2 separate regions of the Homo sapiens genome follow, and region 1 is linked to region 2. A link means that fine-mapping ties the variant in region 2 to the expression of a gene that starts in the linked region. Tissue or cell type: Th2 cells. Region 2 holds a variant in brackets; the other region holds the start of a gene. All regions are shown on one strand. Distances are between the middles of the regions.

The links. PIP is the estimated chance that this variant, and not a neighbour inherited with it, causes the effect.
Region 1: it holds the start of RPS5, and the variant in region 2 is fine-mapped to the expression of RPS5 in Th2 cells (Schmiedel 2018, PIP 0.93).

The regions. Positions count from the first base shown.
Region 1 is chr19:58,383,839-58,391,944 of GRCh38, forward strand. It overlaps RPS5 (ribosomal protein S5), which reads left to right and starts at 3,431. Exons shown (of 6, transcript NM_001009.4): 1 at 3,431-3,501; 2 at 4,299-4,407. The coding sequence starts at 4,300. It overlaps MIR4754 (microRNA 4754), which reads right to left and starts at 3,020; the gene lies at 2,932-3,020. RefSeq lists enhancers at 1,832-2,051, 2,072-2,141, 3,204-3,498, 3,692-3,741.
Region 2 is chr19:58,008,260-58,016,365 of GRCh38, forward strand. It overlaps the pseudogene VN2R19P. Among named protein-coding and RNA genes, the nearest start is that of ZNF606-AS1, 9.4 kb to the left of the region's middle. RefSeq lists enhancers at 1,685-1,734, 1,745-1,804. The variant C/T (reference allele first, on the strand shown) is at 4,763.

The sequences.
Region 1 (8,106 bases), 380 kb after region 2:
AAGTGATTCTCTTGCTTCAGCCTCCCGAGTAGCTGAGACTACAAGCGCCCGCCACCACGCCTGGCTAATTTTTTTGTATTTTTAGTAGAGATGGGGTTTCACTGTGTTAGCCAAGATGGTCTCGATCTCCTGACCTCGTGATGTGCCCGCCTCGGCCTCCCAAAGTGCTGGGATTACAGGCATGAGCCACCATGCCCGGCCCTCTTCTGTCTCTTATAAGGACACTTGTCATTGGATTTAGGGTCCACCCTACTAATCCTAGATGCTCTCATCTTGGGATCCTTGACTAAATTACATCTGCAAAGATTTTTTTCCAATAGGTCACATTCGCTGGGTCTGGGTATTAGGGCATGAACTTACCTTTTTGGGGGCCACCATTCAATCCATTACAGGTGGGCATCCCATAGAAGCAGACAGTGGCTAGGCCAAAGTAGCCCATGAAGTATCAGCCATGGGCACAAGATCAAGTTTGGGATGCGGCAGGGCCAGGCTTGGCTCTGCCAGGCAACTGGGTGGACTGAATCCAGCACACTCCAAACGAGTTGATAATCAGGCTGGGGACTTCAACAGACAACCAAGGTGCCAGTAAAGGCATTAAGGAGCTATCACGGCCAGGTGCGGTGGCTCACACCTGTAATCCCAGCACTTTGGGAGGCCGAGGCAGGCGGATCACGAGGTTAGGAGATCGAGACCATCCTGGCTAACAGTGAAACCCCATCTCTACTAAAAATACAAAAAAAATAGCCGGGCGTGGTGGCGGGCGCCTGTAGTCCCAGCTACTCGGGAGGCTGAGGCAGGAGAATGGCATGAACCCAGGAGGCGGAGCTTGCAGTGAGCCAAGATTGCGCCACTGCACTCCAGCCTGGGCAACAGAGTGAGACTCCGTCACAAAAAAAAAAAAGGAGCCATCACAAGGATGTAAGATCAGCTAACAGTAAGACTGTGGCTGGTAGGGTGGACAGGCAAAGTGACTGCCTGGAGAGTGGGCAGGTGGCCCAGCAGGGCCCAGAGGGTGCCTTCCCAGAAGTGAGGAGTCCAGTCTGGGGCCGGCCACTCAGGATGGACACAATGTACCAGAAGTGAGGTAGATCTCTGCAGAGTCTCTGGGGTCCTCATCCAGTCTGAAGAACACAGCACCAGCAGCCCTAGATCTATGAGGTCAGACTCTGCATCTTATCGTAGCACCTTGGGGACCTGGGGAGGCTGGACCACCCTGGACCTGGTGGCGGGGGTGGGGGGTGCATGAGTCTCGGCTCTGCAGTATTCACCACGCCACACTTGAGGGCACCTGCCCTCTGCAGCACGATGAGTCATTCTCATGAGGTCTGTAAAGATGTCCATTATCAAATGACCATGGTAGCCAGGCCACAGGGTTCACATTGACGTTGCCTCATTGCATTCTCATTTCCACACTGAAGGGGAAAACAGGTTCAGAGGGGTGGGCTCACTGTCCTGATGAGTGCTGCCTGTTTTCTCCCACCCTCCCTACAACCAGCACCCCCATGCCCCTCACTCAAGACCAGGGAGAAGCCCACCTAGCCCCTCCTGCAACCACACAGACCCCAGTGGGAGCCCCAAGGCTGCTACTCTGCACAGGATGGAGGGCAGGGGTAAAGGCCATTAGGCGGTGGCAGTAGGCCGTGCCCCTCACCAGAGGCTGAGGTCTGACCCCTTGACCAGCCCAGCTTCAGGGCATGTGTCCTTTCATGAGCTGTGACTGACCACAGTCCAAGGGCCCACTGTGGGGAGTCCTCAGCATATTTGGACAGAAACGCCCCAGAATTGGGGTAAGAAGAGCCTTTACAGTCAGGCAGTGAAGAAACACAGCTGCTGGGCACCTGCTATGTGCACGCCTCAGGGATGGGAGTAGGGGGCAGGCCCAGCCCTGGGACCTGGGTCAGGTGGCTGGGCCCTTCGGATCCCGAGTTGGAGGGATAACCCCTTGGAGGCAGAGATGGGCATCAGAGACAGGGCGGCCCCAGGTGGTCCTGGAGTCGCCTCGTAAAGGTTATGTCTATGCCTGCTGCAGGCAGAGACACAGTCAAAGTAGTTGCTACCTCTGGAAAGTCCCAGTTCTGCTCATGAGCCTAGATCTAAGAGGCTGGGACAGGCAGAGGGGTATGAAGGGGTCATGGGCAGGCAGACTGTCCACACTGGCTGCCAGGGTGGCCAAGTGAGTAGAGTGAGCTGGGGCACTCACTACCGTGCCAACCCCACGCACGGATGAGGACCCCGGGTCGAAGGCCCACATCCTCAATCCCACGCAATAGTTCAGGCCCTGTGAGAGGGTTCGCTGTCTGCTCCCAGCCAGGGCTGAGCTGTTCAGAGGCCCTACCTGTTCAGAGGCAGCTGGGGGAAGGGACAGAAGTTGGGGGGCAGGGGATTGTGTGCTGGCGGGAATAATCTCCTTCATCTCATGGCTAAATCTTCCATCCCTCCTTTCAACCTTTGGCCAGAAACCTACGTTTCTGACCCTTGGAGAGGTCGGCCAGTTCAAGAGGCACCCCTGAGAGCCACGTCTGCAGACACGAGGGCCTCGTGACGTGAGCCCTGAGGGCAGGGGGCTGCAACCCCTCGCGCGGGCTCCCCGGCCGTGGAGGACACAAGGACAAACACGAAGGGTCCCCGACCTGCCGACCCCCTCCTCCCGGACACCGCGCGTAGCCTGTAGGCTACCTCCGCGCTCCACCCAGAGACGGGTCGCGCTGCTCCCGCCGCCGCAACCCCGGGCCCTCGTGCCGGCGGTCTCCCCTCTTCCACGGGCGAGATTACTGCATAGCAGAGGTGAAGGGCGCGGAGGCTGTGGGGGAACCCAGCGTGGTATGGCAGGAAAGGTCGAGCAGGGAAACAGGCCCAGCCAGAGGCTCGGGATCCGGGGCTCGCGAGCGTGGTGCTCCTGGGCCGGGCGGTGGGGGAGGGGCCGCGTGTGGCAGGCACATGCGCACGGCAACCTGGACCTGCGGAGGGCGGCGGTGACCACTGGGCCTCACTCCGCTAACCCAGGTCCGCATCAGGCGCGTGCCGGTGAGGCGGCTGTGGCCGCGGCGAGGAGTCAGAGGGAACTGAACTGGCTACTCCCGCGGCAGGTGGGATTTAAGGTCAGCAGCTGAACAAAGAAGCGAGCGCTGGCCAGACTTTTTTCTTTATTAGACATGGCTGCGTTGGTCTCACGGAAATCTCTGCGCTTTTGCAGGCGCCCACAAGACAGGGCAACTACGGGGTAGCGGACATCCGCCAGGCACGCTTCTAGGGCCGCTTCTGCAACTGCGCATGCGCTTGGGCTGCACCCATTCCGTCTAGCCCAAAAGGTTCCTCTACAACCTTCCTCCGGATTGGTCTATAGGGACACGATGGCCTTTTACGCAAGCGTCACCCGTGCTGACCCGGAAGTTTTCTTCCCAGTTAAAAGTGTTGGCCCGCGGCGCGCGGCCTCTTCCTGTCTGTACCAGGGCGGCGCGTGGTCTACGCCGAGTGACAGAGACGCTCAGGCTGTGTTCTCAGGTGAGACCGCCGCGGGGCCGGGGATCCTAGGGACGGTTCATGGTCTTTCGGGGATAGTGCCCCGCGGCCTGGGCCTTTTCTCATTAGGTCTCATTTCTGTCTCTGGAAAAGAAAATGTAGAAGAAACGGGCGCGGGCCGAGTTACTCTTGACTTCTTTCTGGTGCTCCGCCGCTTCTAGCTTTTCCCCATAGCGGGGCTTGGGGAACTTGGTTTGAACTATGCGGTTGTACTCTGAGATAGGAAGTTTCCATTTCTTAGGGACACGATGCCCTCTTTTGCTCTGTGTAACTTTCCCCCCGTAATAGCAGCCCCTAGAGCCTTCATACTGTCGGTCAAGAATCGAAACCTTTGGGTTGATTGTGCCACACGGTACCTACCGTGGTCCTTGATGTCATATAACGGTCCCGCCTCACGGCCAAAGAAACAGTCCGAGACGGAACGTTGACTTGGGTCAAAGACCATGTAAATCGCGAGATTGTGGTTTGAATTACAGCCCATGCAGTGTGAGGACGTATGGCATCTGCTGAGCCATTATACCTTGGTCCCAGTGCAGCAGCTGTTGACTGGTGGCTGCCAAGTCTTGGGCCCAGGGGTTCTAGGTGAAAGACAGATGCTTCTTGCTGACAGCTGAGTAATTTTTCTAGTGCTTGAAAACACGTTCACGGCCTTTCTTGGTCCTTTGCGACCCCCCAGTTCATCACTAGATGGCGGCTAGCCTCAGAGTTGGGAATGAGTGCGCCTTTGCTCCATGCTAGCTGAGCTCTGACGTTTTTTTCCTGTCATCACCCTGTCCCAGGATGACCGAGTGGGAGACAGCAGCACCAGCGGTGGCAGAGACCCCAGACATCAAGCTCTTTGGGAAGTGGAGCACCGATGATGTGCAGATCAATGACATTTCCCTGCAGGTGAGGGGAACTTGGTGATTGGCCTTCCTGGCTGGGGGCGGACATTATTCCAGGAAGGCACACATCAAACTTGTTGCTGTGCCATTAAGTCAAGAATAGAGATCATAACAGGTAAAGAAGGGATCCCTTGACCACCACATCTACCACATCTGCTCTTACGTCCTGTTCAAAGATGACTACAACTTCTGTCATGAGAGGACTCCTTCACCAGAAGGAGCATCACATCTCACATATGGTATTTTTGTTACTGTTTTTGTAGTAAAATACATAACATCCAGTGTCATTCTTTTGCATGTGAATATCCAGTTATCCAGTACCATCTCCTAAAGAGATGTTTTTTTTCCCTCAATTGAATGGCCTTGGCCACTTGTCATAAATCAGCTGGCCGTAGTTTTTTTTTTTTTTTTTTTTTTTTGAGACGGAGTCTCACTCTGTTCCCTGGGCTGGAGTGCAGTGACGCGATCTGCCTACCGGGTTCACACCATTCTCCTGCCTCAGCCTCCTGAGTAGCTGGGACTACAGGTGCCCGCCACTGCACCTGGCTGATTTTTTTTTTTTTATTTTTAGTAGAGACAGGGTTTCACCGAGTTAGCCAGGATGGTCTCGATCTCCTGACCTCGTGATCCGCCCGTCTCGGCCTCCCAAAGTGCTGGGATTACAGGCGTGAGCCACCGCGCCCGGCCCAGATGTATGGGTTTCATTACAGACTTTCAGTTATATTCCACTGGTCTATATGTCTGTCTCTATGCCAGTACCACACTTTCTTGCTTTGTATTAAGTTTTGCAATTGGGAAGTGTGAGTTGTCCTACTTTGTTCCTACTCCGTACGGTTTTACACATACCCTTTTTTTCCCCTCCCCATGAAGGCATCATTAAGAATTTTGTGGGCCTTAAGAACTTTAGCTTTTGTGAGCCCTTCCTCCATTAAAAGAAAGTGTTTGAAATTATATTTTGTGACTGCATTGATATAAAGATGAATATAACTTGGGTTGCACTTTATTCACTTTCCTCCTCTTTTTTTTTAATCATTAAAGTTTTATCTTTGAGATAAGATCACTCTCTGTCACCCAGGCTGGAGTGCAGTGGTGTGATCACAGTTCACTGCAGCCTCAATACACCTGGGCTCAGGGGATCTTCCTGTCTTAGACTCCAACTAGCTGGGACCAAAGATGCATGCCACCAAACCTGCTACCTTTTGTTTTATAAAGAATGAAAACTTTTTTGTTGTCTGTAAAGATGTCAGGGGACTTAGGCACTATGCCTAATGGATAATTCAGCCTTGTTTTTCACTCTGAATATCTTGTAGATCTTGGCTTTTCTTTCCTTCAGGGGTTTATTTCGGGGGGTCCAAAAACATTTTAAATATTATTATTATTTTTTGTTTGTTTATTTATTTATTTATTTTTTTGAAACGGAGTTTCGCTCTTATTGCCCAGGCTGGAGTGCAATGGCACGATCTTAGCTCACCACAACCTCCGCCTCCCGGGTTCAAGCAATGCTCCCGCCTCAGCCTCCCAAGTAGCTGAGATTACAGGCGCACACCACCACGCCTGGCTAATTTTTGTATTTTTAGTAGAGACGGGGTTTCACCATGTTGGTTAGGCTGGTCTCGAACTCCTGACCTCATGATCTGCCCGGCCACATTTTAATTATTTATTTATTTTTTGAGACAGAGTTTCGTTCTTGTCGCCCAGTCTGGAGTGCAATGGTGCGATCTTGGCTCACTGCAACCTCTGCCTCCTGGGTTCAAGCGATTCTCCTGTCTCAGCCTCCCAAGTAGCGGGGATTACAGGCACATGCCACCGCACCCAGCTAATTTTTTTATTTTTAGTTGAGACAGGGTTTCATCATATTGGTCAGGCTGGTCTCTTAACTCCTGACTTCAGGTGATCAGCCTGCCTCAGCCTCCCAAAGTGCTGGGATTACAGGCATGAGCCACCACGCCTGGCGTTATTTATTTATTTGTGAGACAGAGTCTCTCTCTGCCTCCCAGGCTGGAGTGCAGTGGTGCGATCTCGGCTCACTGCAACCTCTGCCTCCCCAGGGTCATGCGACTTTCCTGCCTCAGCCTCCCGAAGTGCTGGGGTTATAGGCATGAGCCACTGCGCCCAGCCCACAAACATTTTCATTATAGGCCCAGATAATGTTTTAGACTTTGTGGGCCACACTGGCCACTGTTACTTTTTTTTTTTTTTTTTTTTTTTTTTTTTGAGATGGAGTCGCTCTGTCACCCAGGCTGGAGTGCAGTGGCACGATCTCGGCTCACTGCAACCTCCACCTCCTAGGTTCAGGTGATTTTCCTGCCTCAGCCTCCCTAGTAGCTGGAACTACAGGTGCATGCCACCACACCTGGCTAATTTTTGTCTTTTTAGTAGAGACAGGGTTTCACCATGTTGGCCAGGCTGGCCTTGAACTCCTTGATCTATTAAACGTTTGTTAAGTGCCTGTTCCACTAGGGAAATAAACATCAATGGGAGTTCACTGTATTTTAAACACCTGTGCAGGGCTCCACTGTTGGGCCAAACCCTTCCTGGGGAATTTGGTGTTTGCAATTTTTTGCTGCATAGTGAAAGCCCTGCGTGAATGCCCTTCACGAGACTGTGAGTTTTTTTTTTCTTGCAGCCAGACTATGAAATAGTACTGAGAGTTTCAGTGTCCTGTGTTCTTTTCCCATCATTCCTTGTATTTGTAGAAACAGGTATTTTGTGTATATTCTCAGAGGCAAGTGATAGAATGGCCTTGGGTACATTTTGTAATGGAACTATCAACAGCAGTCTCCTTCGAATGCACATAGCTCCTTTCTTCCCCTTTACATACTCAAGGTTAACTTTTTGGCATTTTTCTAGATTTTTGTGTGGGGATGGCTATGTAAGTATAAGAAGACTTGTTAAATGATTGTTTTAAAACTGTGGTTCTGGGCCGGGCGCCGTAATCCCAGCACTTTGGGAGACTGAGGCGGGCAGATCATCTGAGGTCAGGGGTTTGAGACCAGCCTGGCCAACATGGTGAAGCCCCGTCTCTACTAAAAATACAAAAATTAGCCTTGCATGGTGGCGTGCACCTGTTGTCCCAGCTACTTAGGAGGCTGATGCAGGAGAATCGCTTGAACCTGGGAGGTGGAGGTTGGGATGAGCTGAAATCATGCCATTGCACTCCAGCCTGGCCAACAAGAGCGAAACTCCATCTCAAAAAAAAAAAAAAAAAAAACTGGGCTGAGCATGGTGACGCATGTCTGTAATCCCAGCAACTTGGGAGGCTGAGGCAGGAGAATTGCTTCAACCCAGGAGGTGGAGGTTGCAGTGAGCCAAGATTGCAACGTTGCACTCCAGCCTGGGTGACAGAGTGAGACTCCATCTCAAAAACAAACAAACAAAAAACCCAAAAACAAAAAAGTTCTCAGCCAGGTGCAGTGGCTTATGCCTGTAATCCCATCACTTTGGGAGGCTGAGGCGGACGGATCACCTGAGGTCAAGAGTTCAAGACCAGCCTGGCCAACATGTCCAAACCCCAGCTCTACTAAAAATACAAAAATTAGCCTGGCATGGTGGCATGCACCTGTAGTCCCAGCTACTCAGGAAGCTGAGGCAGGAGAATTGCTTGAACCTGGGAGGCGGAGGTTTCAGTGAGCCAAGATTGCACCACTGCCCTCCAGCCTGGAAGGCAGTGAGACTCCATCTCAAAAAACAAAAAACCAAAAAA
Region 2 (8,106 bases):
GGTGTGAGGGCCTGCCTAGTCAGCTGCGGGAACAACAGTGGTCATAGAGGCAATAAGGGGGCCAGATGGTAGAGAAAGTTGAAGGCATCATGAGGGCTCTGGCAGGGTTCTGAGTAGAGCATTGATGAGCTCTAGCCTCTGTATGGAGAGTAACCAAGGAAAGCAGTAGAGTCATGTGTGAAACCAATGTAGTAATTAGGTGGAAGATGATAGCCGCTCGGATCAGATTGGTGATCAGTGGCTGGATTGCGGACATGCTGATACTTTAAAGGTAGAGCCAACAGACCGTAGGTTCAAGGTTTTGCATCATAAGGGGCAATATAGCCTGTAATGTTCAGAAGGAGTCAAGAAATAAAGGAGGCCTCTCAATACAGAGCTATTCACCAAGGGCCTTGATGGGGAGGAAGTAAGTTGCAAGTGTGTGGAGATACTGCTCCCTTCTGGCCCAAGCTCCCTCCCACTCCAGTTACCCAGTGTTGCGGGCAGCACCCTATTCTCTTCTGGGAGGTAGCGGAGGCAGAGCCACACCATCATTTTGGATGCACCTATTATGGGAGGCTGGAGTGCAATGGTGCCATCTTGGCTCACTACAACCTCCGCCTCCCAGGTTCAAGGGATTCTGCCTCAGCCTCCTGAGTAACTGGGGTTACAGGCGCGCGATACCACGCCTGGCTAATTTTTCTATTTTTAGTAGAGATGGGGTTTCGCCATGTTGGCCACGCTGGTCTTAAACTCCTGACCTCAAGTGATCCGCCCGCCTTGGTCTTCCAAAGTGCTGGGATTACAGGTGTGAGTCACCGTGCCCAGCCTGGACTTGCCTTTTACCTCATCCGTGGTGTCTTTTGAAGAAAAAGATTCTTTAGAAATGTTTTTTCTTTCATAGCTTGTGTTTTATGTATTACTTTCAAGATCCCAACTAGATCTAGGTCCTAAAAATAGTATCCTACCTATTGTTTTTTTAATCAACTTAATTGTGGTATAATTGCACACTGCAGATAAACTGCACATGTTTGAAGTGAGTAATGTAAGTTTTTTTGTCTTGGAGCCCTGAGGTAAACTTTTATTTCTTAGCTGACAGGACTTCCACACCCATGCTCCTCTCGGCACCTTTCACCCAGCCCAAGCAGCGGCGGCCCAGTGGTGGAAAAGGTGCCACGGCCAAACGGATTGGAGACTCACCCCGCATTCTAGGCCGGAGAAGCGGGCGGGCTTGGGATGCCGGCAGGAGGCAATGACTCTCCCCAGGCGCTGCATCCTGGCTCCGGGGCACAAGCGCCTCTCCGCCCTGACGCTGATGCTCGTCTGGCTGCCCGTTCTTTGGCATCAAAATACCAGACGATGGTGGCGCACCCTGTGGCCTGGGCTGCCTCACCTCATTCGGTCCCGCCTAGAAAGACCAGAGGACCAGAAAACCAGAAGCCTGTCAGAGCGACTAGAGGCTGGCTCCAGCCAACAGCCGCGCGCCTCAGCGTCCACGAGGGTTACCTGGGTAACGCGCCGCTTGGGCTCGGCGCCCAGCCGATGACGTAACCCGCGCTTGCGTAGTGGCGCCGCCCTGATGTGTAGTCTCCAGGCCGCCCCGAACACCAGCCCAGCGGGTCCTGGACCCCTAGGTCATGTGGCTACAGTGGAATCCAGGCTTGGCCGAATCCAGGACGACCAGGCCAGACCCACCGGCAGTACCTTGCCCGCCCGCTTTAGTCACTTGCTCTAGGTGGATCTAAACCTCTAGGCCTGGGCGCGGTGGCTCACGCTTGTAATCCCGGCACTTTAGGAGGGCAAGGCGGCAGAATCGCTTGAGCCCCCGGCAGCATGGAGAGGTGGCAGAGGCAGGGCCATACCATCATCTTGGGTGCACCTATTATGGGAGGCTGGAGTGCAATGGTGCCATCTTGGCTCACTGCAACCTCCGCCCCCCAGGTTCAAGCGATTCTGCCTCAGCCTCCTGAGTAACTGGGATCATAGGCGCACGCTACCACGCCCGGCTAATTTTTCTATTTTTAGTAGACATGGGGTTTCGCCACCCCCGGCAGCATGGGTAGACATGGCCCTCCCGCCTGATCTCTTAAAAAAACTTTAAATAATTCGTGGGGGGGGTTACCGCCCACCTGTTTTCCCAGCTACTCCGGAGGCTGCGGTGGAAGGATCACCTGAGCCCAGGAGGTCAAGACTGCAGTGAGCTATGATCCTGCCACTGCACTCCAGCCTGGGCGACAGCGTGAGATCCTGTCTCCAAAATAAATAAAATTATGTACATATGTATGTATATTTAATTACATATATTTTGTATAATTTGTATATAGTTTATAATATATACATGTATGTGTACACATACATAAATATATGCGTAAATATATATATGCATATATATATGTAATAAAATATTAAGAACCCGCCCAGCCGAAGCCACGGGCGCTTTGGGCCCTCGGTTGGCCTCAGCCACTTCAGTCGCGGCCCCGGGGATGTTGGGGGAACCCTGTCAGGCAGCAAGCGCGTCCTCCAGCCCCGGGCGGCCGGCGGCTGTGCACCCGCCCTCCCTCCCTCCCACGGCGCTCGCCTGCATGCGTTTTGGCAAATATCTAAACCCGCAAAACCATCACTAGCTCTGGTTTCCCAAGATCCTTGAAGCCCCTCCGTTCAGCATTCCACGCCCCTCTCTGCCCTGCTTTCAAACCACCGCCAATCTGCTTTCTGTTATATATACAGATTAGTTTGGATTTTCTAACAGTTGTATATAAATGCAGTGACACATTTGAGTGTACTCTTTTGTGATCTGGTTTATTTTACTCAGCATAATTATTTTGAGATTATCCATTTTGTTGCATATGTAAGTAGCTCATTCCTTCTATTGCTGAGTGGTGTTCCATCTCATGGATGCACCACCATTGTTTATCACGCATCTGTCCGTGGACATGTAAACTGTTTTCTATTTGCGGCTGTTAAAAATAAACTTCTGTGAACATTCGTGTACAAGTCTTCCTAAGGACACGCATTTCCTTTCCTGTTGGATAAATGCCTAGGCGTAGAATGGCTGGATCATATAGGAAATGAAAATTCAACTTTTTTTTTTTGAGATGGAGTCTCACTCTGTCGCCCGGACTGGAGTGGAGTGGCGCGATCTCGGCTCACTGCAAACTCCGCCTCCGCGGTTCACACCATTCTCCTGCCTCGGCCTCCCGAGTAGCTGGGACTACAGGCGCCCACCACCACACCAAGCTAATTTTTTCATTTTAGTAGAGACGGGGTTTCACCGTGTTAGCCAGGATGGTCTCAATCTCCTGACCTCGTGATCCACCCGCCTCAGCCTTCCGAAGTGCTGGATTACAGGCGTGAGCCACCATGCCCCACGAAAGTTCAACATTTTAAGAAACTCTCCATTTGTTTTCCAAAGTGTTTGTACCGTTTCACATTCCCACCAGCAATACACAGATGCTCCTGAACTACGATAGGGTTAGGTCCAAATAAGCCCATGGTAAACTGAAAATACCATGAATCAAATGATTTACAATACCCAAATAAATCCGTCAAGTTGAGGAGAGTACTGAATTTGTATAGCTTGTATACCATCATAATTTTGAAAAATCATAAGTTGAATCATGGACAAGGACTGTATAAGAGTTGTAATTCCTCCATATCCTTGGCAACATGATATGGTTTATTTTTTGCAATTCTAATAGGTGTGTATTGGGTATTGCACTGTAGTTTTGATTTCCCTAATTACTAACATTAAACATCTTTTCATATACTTCCTTTCCATTTGCATATTTTGTGGTGAACTGTGTTCAAATGCTTTGCTTGGCTTTAAAAAAAAAGTAGCTGAAATTGCTTGTTTTCTTATTGTTGAATTTTATCTTTTATTCTTTTTTTTTTTTTTTTTTTTTTTTTTTGAGATGGAGTCTTGCTCTGTCACCCAGGCTGGAGTGCAATGGCATGATCTTGGCTCACTGCAACCTCTGCCACCCAGGTTCAAGTGATTCTCCTGCCTCAGCCTCCCAAGTAGCTGGGATTATAGGTGCACACCACGACACCTGGTTAATTTTTGTATTTTGAGTACAGACAGGGTTTCACCATGTTGGCCAGGCTGGTCTTGAACTCCTGACCTCAAGTGATCTGCCCATCTCAGCCTCCCAAAGTGGTAGGATTACAGGCGTGAGCCACCACGCCCATCCTTTAACTATCTTTTAATCCACACAGAAGCCCAGAGCTCAAATCAGGGGCCCTGATATCTTCAACAAGGCCTGGCTCGTGGGTTTATGGCGCAGGTCTGAGGAGCTCCTGGCTCCACGTTTCCCACCGATCCCAGTGTCCTCGCCTCACCCAGTCTGGGGCATTCCGCTCGGGCTTTAGCAGGATGATGTAACATTTGGGGCAAAGATGCCACCCAGCAGCCCTGCCATGGAAGCCAGGATGGAAAAGATCTCCACGGCCACAGTGGACTTGCCCTGTGCGCTGTGGTACAGGGGCAGGAAGGTTGTCCAGAAGCTGCAGAACAGCAGCACGCTGAAGGTGAGGAACTTGGACTTGTTGAAGGCGTCTGGCAGACCCCTGGCCAGGAAGGCTACAAAGAAGGTGCCCCCAGCCAGGAGGCCCAGGTAGCCCAGCACACAGGAGAAAGCGACAGCAGAGCCCTCTCAGCACTGGATGACAATGTGGCTGGGCTCTGAGGCCATGTCCCCATCTGGGAATGGTGGGGAAGTGCCCAGCCAGATGCCACAGAGAACAACCTGCACCAAGGAAGCAGCAAGGACCACCGAGGTGGAAG[C/T]GCCAGGTCCCAGGCACACCCAGACCCTGTCACCTGGTGACCCTGAAGGCCAGGACGGAAGAGACAGCCATGGTGAACACAACAGCAACTGTGGTCTGGTAGAGGCGGCAGGTGGCAGCTGTGGGACAACCAAGGCAAGGCAAGGGACAGAGGGCACAGAGGGTCAGGGAGGTGAGCGGCGTGCAGCTGAGAGCTCTGTTGTTGGCCCCGACCACAGGTGTGTCTCGGTGCTTCAGAACAGTCTGAGGACCAGCACTGCCAGGCTGGCCAGCATGAGCGCCACCAAGGCGAGCATGAGTCCCAGGGGGTCGTCAAAGGCCAGGAAGGTCTCTGTCCTGGGCAGGCAGCCATCTCTGGTGCGGCTTGAGTACTGCTCCTCTGGGCACAGAAGACATCTCTTCGTACCTGTGGGAGACACACATCCCTGCGTCTGCCACAGGATCGTAATGACACCAGCCATGTGAAGGAAGGCTCCCTATGCACTAAACCAGCCTTACCAGCGTTTCACACCTATTCATTACTGATTGAAGGGGGCCTGCCCCTCCACACCTGTGGGTATTTCTCGCAAGGTGGAGACAAGAGACTGAGAAAAGAAATAAGACACAGAGACAAAGTGTAGAGAAAGAAAAGTGGGCCCAGGGGACCGGCACTCAGCATACAGAGGACCCACACCAGCAGCAGTCTGAGTTCCCTCAGTATTTATTGATCACTATCTCTACCATCTTGGCAAGGGGGATGTGGCAGGACTACACGGTAATGGTGGGGAGAGGGTCAGCAGGAAAACATGTGAGCAAAGGACTCTGTGTCATAAATAAGTTTAAGGAAAGGTGCTGTGCCTGTGATGTAACCAAGCAAGTTATAGAGAAACGCCACACTTTGAGACTAATTCAGGAGTCCTTTATCAGCCGGTGACCGAGAGATGGCTAGTGCTCAAAATTCTCTCAGCCCCGAAGAAGGGGCTAGATTTTCTTTTATACTTTGGTTTAGAGGAGGGGGAACCTAGCTGTAGCAATCTTACAGAAGTAAAGCAGGCAAAAAAAAAAGTTAAAAAGACAAATGGTTACAGGAAAACAAACAGTTCCAGGTACAGAGGCTTTAAATCCATCACAAGGTGATAGGTGCGGGGGCTCTGGGTGCTATCTGCCAGACACAAACGCGGGGGCTTTAGGGTACTATTACCCCAGTGAATTCCTGGCAACTGCAGACATAGCCTGCCACAGTACCTTATCAGTTAATTGCACTCTTTGATATGCTGAGAGTCAGCTTGCTCAAGTTAAGTCCTTGAGGAAGGGAGTGGGTAAGGAGCCCTTGAGGTCTTGCAAATGAAGGAGCTAAATGGAGTCCATCCAGCTTTCTCAGCTAAGAGAGAGTATTCATATTAAAACAAGGTATGGTATCACACCTGGATGTGCACGTAGGCCAGATTTATGTTTGACTTTACCCAAACACCTCAGTGCAGTAAAGAGCAGTACTGCCACCAGCATGTCTCACCTCCAGCCGTAAGACAGTTTTCTCCTATCCCAGTAAATGGAATGTACAATCAGGTTTTCTACCGAGACATTCCATTCCCAGGGATGAGGAGCAGGAGACAGAGGCTTTCCTCTTATCTCAAGTGCAAAGAGGCCTTCCTCTTTCACTAATCCTCCTCAGCATAGACCCTTTACAGGTGTCAGGCTGGGGGACGGTAAGGTCTTTCCCTTCCCACGAGGCCACATCTCAGGCTGTCTCAGGGGGGCAAACCTTGGACAATACCCAGGCTTTCTCAGGCAGAGGTCCCTGCGGCCTTCCGCAGTGCATTGTGTCCCTGGGTACTCGAGACTGGAGAATGGCGATGACTTTTACCAAGCATACTGCCTGCAAACACATGTTTACCAAGGCACATCCTGCACAGCCCTAACTCCATTAAACCTTGAGTCAATACAGCACGTTTCTGTGAGCACAGGGTTGGGGCTAGGGTTACAGATTAACAACATCTCAAGGCAGAAGAATTTTTCTTAGTACAGATCAAAATGGAGTTTCTTATGTCTTCCTTTTTCTACATAGACACAGTAACAGTCTGATCTCTTTCTTTCCCCCACAGATTTATAATTTTGAGATACCAGTGATGGGATGGGCCACATTAGATCCTGAGGCACAAGGAAAAATACACGCCCCGTATACATGTTTGCATGTTTTTTTAAAATGGTTAATTTTTTCCAAGTAGTAACAACAACTGCTCTTTTTGTTTTGTTGTTTGAGACAGGGTCTCACTCTTGACACCCAGGCTGGAAAGCAGTGGCTCGATCACAGCTCACTGCAACCTCCACCTCCCAGGTAAAGCCATCTTCCCCCTCAGCCTCCCAAGTAGCTGGAACTACAGGCATGCACCACCACACCCAGCTATTTTTTTTATTATTGTTTTTGTAAAGACAGGGGCCTCACCCTGTTGCCCAGGCTGGTCTTGAACTCCTGGACTCAAGCAATCCTTCCACCTTGGCCTCTCAAAGTGCTGGGATTACAGGTCTGAGCCACCACACTCGGCTGCACTCGGACTTTTGAACCATAAAAACTGTGAGATAAGAAATGTGCTTTGTTTCATACGCTTGTGGTAATTTGTTAACAGCAGCTATAGAAACTAATGCAGGGAGCAACTGGGCATTGCCTACACTCACAGTGGGAGTGTGAACTGGAAGCACCACCAGTGTCTGTTAAAGCCACAGGTATGGCCTGGCATGGTGCCTCATGCCTATAATCCCTGCACTTTGGGAAGCTGAGGCAGGAGGATTGCTTGAGCTCAGGAGTTCAAGAACAGCCTGGGAAACATAATGAGTCCCTGTCTCTATAAAAATAATTTTTTAAAAAATTAGCCAAGCATGGTGGGGTGGCATGTACGTGTAGTCCCAGCTACTCGGGAGGCTGAGGTAGGAGGATCTCTTGAGCCCAGATCAAGGCTGCAGTGAACCACGTTCACACCACTGCACTCCAGCCTGGGCAACAGAGTGAGACCTCTTCTCAAATAAAAGAAAAAAAAAAGCTGCAGGTATGTCTACCTGTGGCCCAGCAATGCCACACCCAACAGAAATTCACCTGTATGTCCCCAAAAGACACAACAATGAGACACGGCTCATTGCAGCCGCTGATCAGCAGGCTTCTCAAATCCCCCATCCCTGTTGGAGTGGATGAAGCAGCCGTGGTGCGTCCGCACAATGGGATCTCACCAGTCATTAGAACAAGAGATCCACAACCACACATAACCACCACTAGGATGAATCTCACAAACAACTGGGAGGAAAAAGCAAGACACAAAAGAACACTCACTGTGTGATTCCACTTATAGGACGTTTAAAAATCAAGCAAAACCCACT